Linked DNA regions of Homo sapiens. The protein of the gene in region 2 purifies or fractionates together with the protein of the main gene of each other region. This does not show direct contact. Each region holds a gene or a part of one and is shown on either strand. Other genes may lie near its edges. The genes, in order: CLPTM1, OR5M11 and RPSA2.

What was found.
Region 1: the proteins of OR5M11 (region 2) and CLPTM1 purify together in Homo sapiens (affinity purification with mass spectrometry; one large-scale study listed by BioGRID and IntAct). This does not show direct contact.
Region 3: the proteins of OR5M11 (region 2) and RPSA2 purify together in Homo sapiens (affinity purification with mass spectrometry; one large-scale study listed by BioGRID and IntAct). This does not show direct contact.

The regions. Positions count from the first base shown.
Region 1 is NC_000019.10:44,975,815-44,979,471, reverse strand, and holds part of CLPTM1 (putative lipid scramblase CLPTM1), read right to left. Parts: intron 2,130-3,657; coding exon 2,012-2,129; intron 1-2,011. UniProt on the Homo sapiens protein: Involved in GABAergic but not glutamatergic transmission. Binds and traps GABAA receptors in the endoplasmic reticulum (ER).
Region 2 is NC_000011.10:56,541,808-56,544,610, forward strand, and holds OR5M11 (olfactory receptor 5M11), read right to left. Parts: upstream 1,451-2,803; coding exon 533-1,450; downstream 1-532. UniProt on the Homo sapiens protein: Odorant receptor.
Region 3 is NC_000019.10:23,825,368-23,829,024, reverse strand, and holds the end of RPSA2 (small ribosomal subunit protein uS2B), read right to left. Parts: intron 2,811-3,657; exon of another isoform or gene 2,690-2,810; intron 1,956-2,689; 5' UTR 1,864-1,955; coding exon 976-1,863; 3' UTR 157-975; downstream 1-156. UniProt on the Homo sapiens protein: Required for the assembly and/or stability of the 40S ribosomal subunit. Required for the processing of the 20S rRNA-precursor to mature 18S rRNA in a late step of the maturation of 40S ribosomal subunits. Also functions as a cell surface receptor for laminin.

The DNA.
Region 1 (3,657 bases), on a different chromosome or scaffold from region 2:
ACAGGGAATGTCTGGAATAGTCCTCAATAAAGTGAAAGCTAGGTGGAGTACACAGAACTCCCGTTAGAAGAATGGGGGGCTTTCTGAGGAAGCCATTCTCCAGCTCCGCTCAAACAGGTACAGCAAGAGATTTCTACGGCTGCCCATCAGGAGACAGAGGACTCAGGGAAAAAGCTCACAGAGAACCAAGCAAGGCTGGGTGTGGCAGCTCACACCTGTAATCCCAGCACTTTGGGAGGCCGAGGCAGACGATCACTTGAGGTCAGGAGTTTGAGACCAGCCTGGCCAACATGGCGAAACCCCGTCTCTACTAAAAATACAAAAACTAGCCGGGCGTAGTGGCGTGTGCCTGTAGTCCCAGCTATTTTGGAGGCTAAGGTGGGAGAATCGCTTGAACTTGGGAGGTGGAAATTGTGGTGAGCTGAGATAGTCCACTGCACTCCAGCCTGGGCGACATAGTGAGACCCTGTCTCAAAAAAAAAAAAAAAAAGAGCCAGGCAAGCAGAAAGATGACAACAATTATTAACTTCTCGAAAACAAGAGGACGGACAATGCTATGGTTTGAATGTTTGTCCTGGCCAAAACTCATGCTGATTCTCCCACCTCAGCCTCCCAAGTAGCTGGGACTACTGATGTACTCTAGTACTCCCCACTCCCAGTGAAACTTAATCCCCAATGTGCCAGTACTGAGAGATGAGGCTTTTAAGAGGTGACTGGGTCATGAGGACCCTCCCCTCAGGAACTGATTAACCCATTCATGGATTAGTGGTTTAATGGATTAATGAGTTATCATGGGAGTAGAAGTGGTAGTCTTATTTTTTATTACTATTGTTTTTTCAGAGACGTGGACTTGCTCTGTCGCCCAGGCTGGAAAGCTGTAGTGCAATCACAGCTCACTGCATCCTTGACCTCCCAGGTTCAAGCGATCCTCCCACCTCAGCCTCCCATGTAGCTGGAACCACAGGTGCTCACCACCATACCTGGCTATTAATTTTTGTAGCAACGAAGTCTCATTATGTTGCCCACACTGTTCTTTGAATTTTATCTATTTTTTTTTTTTTTGAGACGGAGACGGAGTCTTGCTGTGTCACCAGGCTGGAGTGCAATGGCGTGATCTCAGCTCAATGCAACCTCCGCCTCCTGGATTCAAGCGATTCTCCTGCCTCAGCCTCCCAAGTAGCTGGGACTACAGGAGCATGCTACTACACCCAGCTAATTTTTGTATTTTTAGTAGAGACGGGGTTTCACCGTGTTGGCCAGGATGGTCTCTATCTCTTGACCTTGTGATTCACCCGCCTCGGCCTCCCAAAGTCCTGGGATTACAGGCGTGAGCCACTGTGCCCGGCCTCTATCTATCTTTTTGAGACAGGTTCTCGGTCTGTCACCCAGGCTGGAGTGCAGTGGTGTGATTCTGGCTCACTGCAACCTCCACCTCCTGGGCTCAAGCGATCCTCCCACCTCAGCCTCCTGAGCAGCTGGGACTACAGGCACACGCCCAGCTAGTTTTTGTGTCTTTTTTGGTAGAGACAGGGTTTTGTCATGTTTCCCAGGCTGGTCTCAAACTCCTGGGCTCAAGCAATCTGCCCACCTTGTCTCCCAAAGTGCTAGGATTACAGGCATGAACCACTGCACCCAGCCCACAAATTATTTTTGAGTGTCTACTTCTATCAGGCCCCTACTGTGCAAAAGTCAACCCTGGCCCTTCCCCCTTGGTGAAGGACGTCTCCTCCTCTCCAAGAGTCCCTGTCTCCAGCTGCTTTTTCTGGCCAATTTCTCTCTGGTCCCTGAGCCTCCGTGGGTCTCCCTTCCTCCGTGGGTATCCCTGCTTAGTGTCCACAGGGCTCTTTCAGGCTGGGTGGGGCTTGAGCCTGCCCTGCCAATCCCACCCTCTTTGAGCACAGGCTTCCTGCCTGCCCTCCTGGACTTGGGATTTGTCCGCCACATTAGCCTGGGGGCTCCCAGGATGCTGGCCTCCTGGACAGTGGGTCCTGGCTGCAGGGGAGCGACTTACTCCGGGACATGTGGACTGTGGCAAGCCGGCGGTACAGGGCCTTCTGCCGGGGGTCTGGGTGGAAGCCACTCTTGGTGAAGTAAACGTGGATGTAGATGGAGCCGTTCTGCTGGACGCTCTGCAAAAGACGGAAGGTCAGGTGGGCAGGCTGGGCAACTGGGGTGAGGGAAACGTTAAAGCCCTGCCTGGCACCCATCTGCAGCAGTTTCCTCCCCCTCAACTCTCTGGCCATTTACTGAGTACTCAGGGTGGGGCATGTAGCTGGGTGGCAGAGAGGTAAATGCTGGAGTCAGACAGACTCAGACGCCCGCTCTACCTGCCATGGCCGTGTGAGCTCAGCTTCTCTCTGAGCCTCAGGGCCCCACCTAGAGGATGCGAAGTTCCCACAGCACTGACCCGAGGGCACCACTGCAGGGACTACCTGGAGCACTGGCACACAGCTCAGTCAACGAGCTCTCGTTAAGCTCACTCAACAGGAAGAAGCAGCTGACCGACATGGAGCTCCTACTATGGGCCAGACCCTGCCCTGGGCACTTCAGACAACAGCTTCCTAATCTAACGAGTTAACACACATATAACATGTCAACCTTATGCAATGGGTCATGTTACCACCCCATTTTGCAGATGAGGCAAACGGGGCTCATGCCAAGGGGTCACATAGTGTGTGGCAAGTACGCAGATGGAAACCCAGTCTGTGGGCTCCTGGGTGCTACTCCCTGCTACCTCCAGCTGGCCCCTCTCTGCCCAAGTCTTCCTCATTATCTCATCAAGTCTCCTTGCCTCCCAGGGAAGGGGGACTATTCTCACTTGATCCAGATGAGGAAACTGAGGCTTCAAGAAGGGAGGCAAGTTGTCCAGGGGCACTGGGTGGAGACAAAGGCGAGCACTGAACCTCTCTGATCCTTGTGCAGAGCTCGAATTCAGTTGGCCACATTGTGTTCTCCTCACTCTCCCTATCTTTTTTAGAGATGGGGTCTTCCTGTGTTGCCCAGGCTGGAGTGCACTGGCTATTTGCAGTTGCGATCATGGCACACTACAGTCTTAAACTCCTGGGCTCTGGCCATTCTCCCACCTCAGCCTCCTGAGTAGCTGTGCCTACAGGCACATGCCACTGTGCCCAGCTCTCCTGCCTTTTAAGTCCACTTGGACCCCACCCTGAAGCTTCGACTTAGATCCAAGCCCTTGGAAGCAGATCCCCCTGCTGGGCCTGCCAGGCCCTGGTCCTTCCTTGGATCTCGTGGCAAGGCCTGGGGGCTGGGCTTGAGGTCTCTGTGGGAGTCACCTCTCAGTGCAGGTCAGAAAGTCCAGCCAGGTGGGGTGGTTCATGCCTGTAATTCCAGCACTTTGAGAGGCTGAGGTGAGAGGATCGCTTGAGCAGAGGAGTTTGAGACCAGCCTGGGAAACATGTTGAGACCCCATCTCTACAAAAAATTAGCTGGGCATGGTGGTGCATGCCTGTTGTCCCAGCTACTTGGGAGGCTGAGGTGAAAAGATTGCTTGAGCCCAGGAGGTTGAGGCTGCAGTGAGCTGTAATTGCACCACTGCACTTCAGCCTAGGCAACAGAGCAAGACCCCATCTCAAAAAGAAAAGAATGATGGCTGGACGCGGTGTCTCACGCCTGTAATCCCAGCACTTTGGGAGACCA
Region 2 (2,803 bases):
AGGAAAGGAGTACAGAAGAATGGATTTCTTGGAGTGCAGAAGAATGGGTTTCTTAAAGACATCTCTGCTGAAGCAGCAGGCGAGAATAAGAATAGAATACATTCAAGAAATTGGGCTGGGAGCACATTTATTTTGTTTGCCATTGTAAACAAAAAGAGCACAACAGTGTTCCAGGGCATGCCACGTTTCACCCACAGCAGTGCTCCTCAAAATTCAGTGTGCTTATCAATCATCTAGGAGTTTGGATAAAACACATATTTAAATACAGTGCACCTGAGGTGCAGACTTTGATTCTGTACGTGTAACAACCTCCAAGGAAGAGCTCATGCTGCTGATTCATGGAATATATGTGGAGGAGCAAAGCCTAGAAAAATCTCATTTTTACCCAGCATGAGCTTTTTAGCTGAGACACTCAACATAGACTCACAGAGAATATTAAAACTCACCATCAGAACGCTAGGACATGTGAGCCAAAGATTTCGATTTAATGTTTATTAGGAAACAAAGGCATCACCATGGTCATGACAATATTTCATCTCAGGACATTCTTCAAGGCCTGCTTCACATCTTTATTCCTCAGACTGTAGATCAATGGATTAAGTACCGGACTCACAAAGGTGTAAAAGACAGCTATTATTTTAGATTCCTCAACAGTCTTATCTGTTGGTGGTCTTATATACATGCAAAAGAGAGTCCCATAAAACAGGGTGACAGCCATCATATGGGAACCACAGGTGGAGAATGCCTTGTGCCTTCCCTCTGCTGATTTGATCCGGAGGATGGCAGCAAGAATGAAGGCATAGGACACCAAGACGATGGTGAGGGAGCTGGAGAGGTTGAAGCCAGCAGATATGAACATGGCATGCTCTTTGACATAAGTATCAGAACAAGAAAGCTTAATGAGCGGCGGGTCAGCACAGTAGAAGTGGTTGATGACACTGGATCTACAGAAGGTCAGGCGGAAGGTCAGGATGGCCTGGAAGAGTCCATCTGAGAAGCCATAGACATAGGGAAATGTGGCCAAGCAGATGCAAACTCTCCTGGACGTTTTCACACTGTAGCGCAGAGGGTCATATATGGCCACATAGCGGTCATAGGCCATTGCTGCCAGCATGTAAAACTCAGTGAGTAGAAGGGCAATGAAAATGTAGCACTGTGTAAAGCAACCAGCAAAGGAAATGGTCTTCTCAGATACGATATTAGTCGACATCTGCGGGGTTGCATTTGATGTATAGCACAAATCCACAAAGGCTAAGTTAGTGAGGAAGAAGTACATGGGCGTGTGAAGGCGAGAGTCCAGTCTCATTAACATTATCATGCCCAGGTTGCCTAGCAGGGTGACGAGGTAAACAACCAGAAACAGCACAAAAAGCAGAGACTGGAGTTCCGGGCAATCTGTGAGCCCAAGTAAAATGAATTCTGTGATTGCACTGCCATTTGTGTTGGACATTTCCTGACAGTTTGCTCTTCAAGCTATGGAAATAAAGCCAATATAAACAAATGCACATACCATGTTAATGTTCATTTGAATTAGTTTTTCTCCACATCTTCATATATCATCGAAAGTTATCTATTTCTGGGTACTACCATAAACTGGTTTTGGTAATTATGGTAGACTTACTATAATTTTGTAAGTCTACAATGTCATTATATCATTTGCCTAGGCATTACATTACTAATATATTCTTTCTCTACACCTATAGATATATCTATACCTACACCTGTATCTATCTATCCATCATCTATCTATCTATCTATCTATCTATCTATCTATATGACTGAGCTACATCTCTTCTATCTTCCTGTACTTTTTAAAACCTAATTCTATTCATGCTACATGACCCACTTTAAAGGCCACTTCTTTGTGAAGCATTTCTCATCCATTTCTCCTAATACGTGTCACTGAATTCTCTCTTCTTTATTTCCAGAGTATTCTATATTTCTCTAATTTATTATTTAGCCCCCATTGTATCATTATAAAGTATATACTTTCTCATCACATAATGGTGTTGAGAGCAGGGACAAAGTGAAGTTCATTTTTTAATTATACTTCTCAACACATATTTTTATACTAAATTTTCTTAAAATGCAAAAAGGAGAGCATGTAAGAATGAATGACTTGCAATTTTTACTCACAGATTTATCTCCATGTAGCCTTGCGTGATGTCATGTTCTCAGGAGAATTAAGTGATTATTGAAACTTAGTGTAGAAGCAATTCTTGGGAAGCTTGTTTATTAGCCCATATCACAGGTTTTTGCAGAAATTCTTATGTGGGGTACTGGAATCTTCATCTCTAATGATTATCTGTAGGATTCTAATGCAAGTGTTCCAAGATCATAGCTCAAAATGCACAGTCAGAATGGCTCAATAAACATATGCCAAATAAATGAACAAAGAACTGTGAAATAAAATAAATTTTCATATAGTATCTTGAGGATGTTTAGAGCAATGACTTAATGTGTTTAGAAAGAAAATAAATTAATATTTTCAGAGTTGGTATTTAATCTTTTAATCACAACTTGTATCTAACAAGAGGTATTACAAATCCTTTTGGCTTTTTACCTCTCTTCACATCAGAATCTTTGCTAATTCACATTTTCCTTTCTTTCGAGAAGTTTTTAATTTTTGCCCATTCTTTCATACTTGAAATTTTTATTACAGGCTTCTCAATTCTTGTCTCATCTCAAAATGAGTCACCTCATTTATTTTACTGTAAGTTTTAGAATGCCTATAATCAAAACTCTGTCTTGCTGTTACTATTGAGAAAAGCAACGTACAAAAAGGTTAAATAATTGAACCGAG
Region 3 (3,657 bases), on a different chromosome or scaffold from region 2:
CAAAGAAGGACATCAAAAAATAATAGATTCATTCACAGGGAATCTATGACAAATTTGTGTGTGTGTGTGTGTGTGTGTGTGTGTGTGTCTCACATTAGGGTTCCAAGTATATAAAGCAAATATTGACAGAATGGAAGAAACACACAGAAAGCAATATAATTAGAACAATATATTTTAATACCACACTTTTTGTAATAAAACTAAAACAAGAAAGAATGTTAATAAAAGAACAGACTACTTAAAGGCAGTATAAAACAATTATTCCAAACAGAGTTATGGAGAACACTCCTCAACAACATCAGAATACACACCCTTCTCAATAGCTCATACAACATTTCCCTTGAAAGACCACATCTTAGGACAAAAAGGAAGTCTTATCAAATTTTTTAAAAGTAAATTTCTATGAACTACATTCTATGACCAAAATGGAATGAGAATATACAACGATAAAAGCAAAAAAAAAAAACTGAAAAATTTACAAATATATAGAAACTAAACAACACACTCTTGAGTGTGCTCTTACACAAAGGTTGAAATACTTAATATTGCAGAGTCCATCCTGCTCAATGCAATCTACAGATTTAATGCAATATTTTTCAAATTTCTCATTGCATTTTTGAAGAAATAGAAACACCAACCTCAAAAGTATACAGAGACTCAAAAGAAAAACAAACTACCCAACAATATTAAAAAAAAAAAAAGAAAGAAAGAATGCTGCAGGCATTAAAGTGCCTGATTCAAAACACATTACAAAGCTACCAAATTAAACAATTTGATATGAGTATAAAGGTGAAAAAGTAGACTAATAAAATAGAATGCAGCACATATATAAACTTTCACATATATGGTCATATAAGTAGTCATTTATAGACTCATAATTATTGCAGCATTTTTTTTTTTTTTTTTTTTAGAAACTGATGTTTATTTTCCATCAACCATTTTTCCATGCTGCTTAAGAGCCTATGCAAGAACAGCTTAAGACCAGTCAGTGGTTGCTCCTACCCATTCAGTGGCCTGAGCAGTGGGAGCTGCAGACCAGTCTTCCGTGGCAGGCTGAGCGCTCCAGTCTTCAGTAGGGAATTGCTGAATAGGCACAGAGGGCACCTGTACACCTTCAGACCAGTCTGCAACCTCAGGCTGAGTAGCAGTGAACTCAGGAGAGGGAGCAGTCCATTCACCCTGAAATTCCTCCTTGGTCACTGCCTTCTCAGCAGCAGCCTGCTCTTCTTTTTCAATCTCTTCAGGATCTCTGTAGAAGTACAGATCAGGCATGACCTCCCATGGGTGTTCACGGGAAATGGTGCCACGCATGCGCAGAACTTCCCGAGCCAGCATCCACCACATCAAACCCACTGAGTGAGCTCCCTTGTTGTTGCATGGGATGGCAATGTCCACATAGCGCAGAGGAGAATCTGTGTTACACAGCGCAATGGTAGGTAGGTTAACATAAGATGCCTCCGTGAGAGGCTGGTGGTCAGCCCTGGGGTCAGTAACCACAAGAAGCCGTGGCTCCCAGAAGGCTGCCTGGATCTGGTTAGTGAAGGTTCCAGGAGTGAAGCGGCCAGCAATTGGAGTGGCTCCAGTGGCAGCAGCAAACTTCAGCACAGCCCTCTGGCCAGTATTCCTGGAGGATATAACACTGACATCAGCAGGGTTTTCAATGGCAACAATAGCACGAGCTGCCAGCAGAAGCTTCTCCCAGGTCCTCTTGAGATTTATGATATAGATGCCATCACTTTTCCTTTTATAGATGTAGTGTTCCATCTGGAAGTCAAGATTGGTGCCACCTAAGTGGGTTCCTGCTGCAAGGAACTTAAGGACATCCTCCTCCTTCATTTGCAGGACATCAAGGGCTCCGGACATTGTGAAAGTTTCCCTTTAAGTTACGACGGGAATCCAGAACAACGCCGTATGGACCCCTCTGCAGGTAGCGCGGAAAAGCTGCAGCATTGTTACTGTAAGCAAATAGGTAAAAGCAATGCAAATATCTTTCAATAAATCATTCAGTAGATATAATTTGAAATATAAAAATTCTTCCCAGGCACGGTGGTTCACACCTGTAATCCCAGCACTTTGGGAGGCCAAGGCAGGCAGATCACAAGGTAAGGAGTTCGAGATCAACCAGACCAACAATGGTGAACCCTGTCCTTACTGAAAAAAAAAATACAAAAATTAGCCAAACGTGTTGGCACGTGCCTGTAATCCCAGCTACTCGGGAGGCTGAGGCAAAAGAATTGCTTGAACCCAGGAGGCAGAGGTTGCAGTGAGCCAAGATCGCCCCACTGCACTCCAGCCTAGGTGACAGGGCAAGACTGTCTCAAAAAATATATATATATATTCTGGAATATACTCAGTATTCAAAAGCAGGAAATATTCTACCAACTATAAATATAAATCTTGATGGCATTATGCAAAATGAAATGAGCCAATCACAAAAAGACACAGATTTTATGACATACATGAAGTAGTTATACTGTTAAAAACAAAAAACAGAGTGGTGTTTGCAAAACGCTATAAAACAGAAAAAATTGTGGCCAGGCATGGTGGCCCATACCTGTAATCCCAGCACTTTGAAAGGCTGAGGCAGATAGATTACCTAAGGTCAGGAGTTTGAAACCACGCTGGCCAACATGGTGAAACTGCATCTTTACTAAAAATGCAAAAATTAGCCAGGCATGGTGATGGGCACCTGTAATTCCAGCTATTCAGGAGGCTGAGGCGTGAGAATTGCTTGAACCCGGGAGGTGGAAGTTGCAGTGAGGTGAATCATGCCACAGCACTCCAGCCTGAGTAGCAGAGTAAGACTCCAGCTCAAAAAAAAAAAGAAAAAAGAAAAAAAGAAAAAATTAAAAATTAGTACTTGTTGTTTAATATGTGTTAAGATTTAGCTTTGCAAGATAAAAACATTCTAGCAATATGTTGCATGACAATGTCAAGATAATTGATATGACTAAATATTTAAAAATATTTTGTGGTAAATTTTGTTTTTTTTTGACAAGAAATAAACAATAATAACTAAAAGAGATACAGAGTTATGATAGTTTTAAATTATATTCAAATCCAAAAGTGTTTCTCCCACACAGAAATCATATAGATTTACAAATAAATAGGTTGTTGAAATTATAAAAATTTTATGGGCTGAGCATGGTGGCTCACACCTGTAATCTCAGTACATTGGGAAGCTGAGGCGGGCAGATCACCTGAGGTTGGGAGTTCAAGACCAGCCTGACCAACATGGAGAAACCCTGTCTCTACTAAAAATACAAAAATATTAGCCAGGCATGTTGGCACATGCCTGTAATCTCAGCTACATAGGAGGCTGAGGCACTAGAATCATTTCAACCCAGGAGGCAGAAGTTGCAGTGAGCTGAGATCGCGCCATTACACTCCAGCCTGGGCAAGAAGAGCAAGAGTCCATCTCAAAAAAAAAGAGTATTTTATGATGACTCATCTACGCAGAATTAGAAAACCATTCACAACAAACCTACACAACAAATATACAAGTTAGAAAAAAAATACAAGGATAACATTTATTTTTGTATACAGGAAAACAAACACAGAGATAATTCTATTGGAAAAAGACGTATAGCTCATTCATATTTGACTTTCTTCCACACTGCCTTAAATTATAAGATGTTAAAAATTAGCATGCATAAT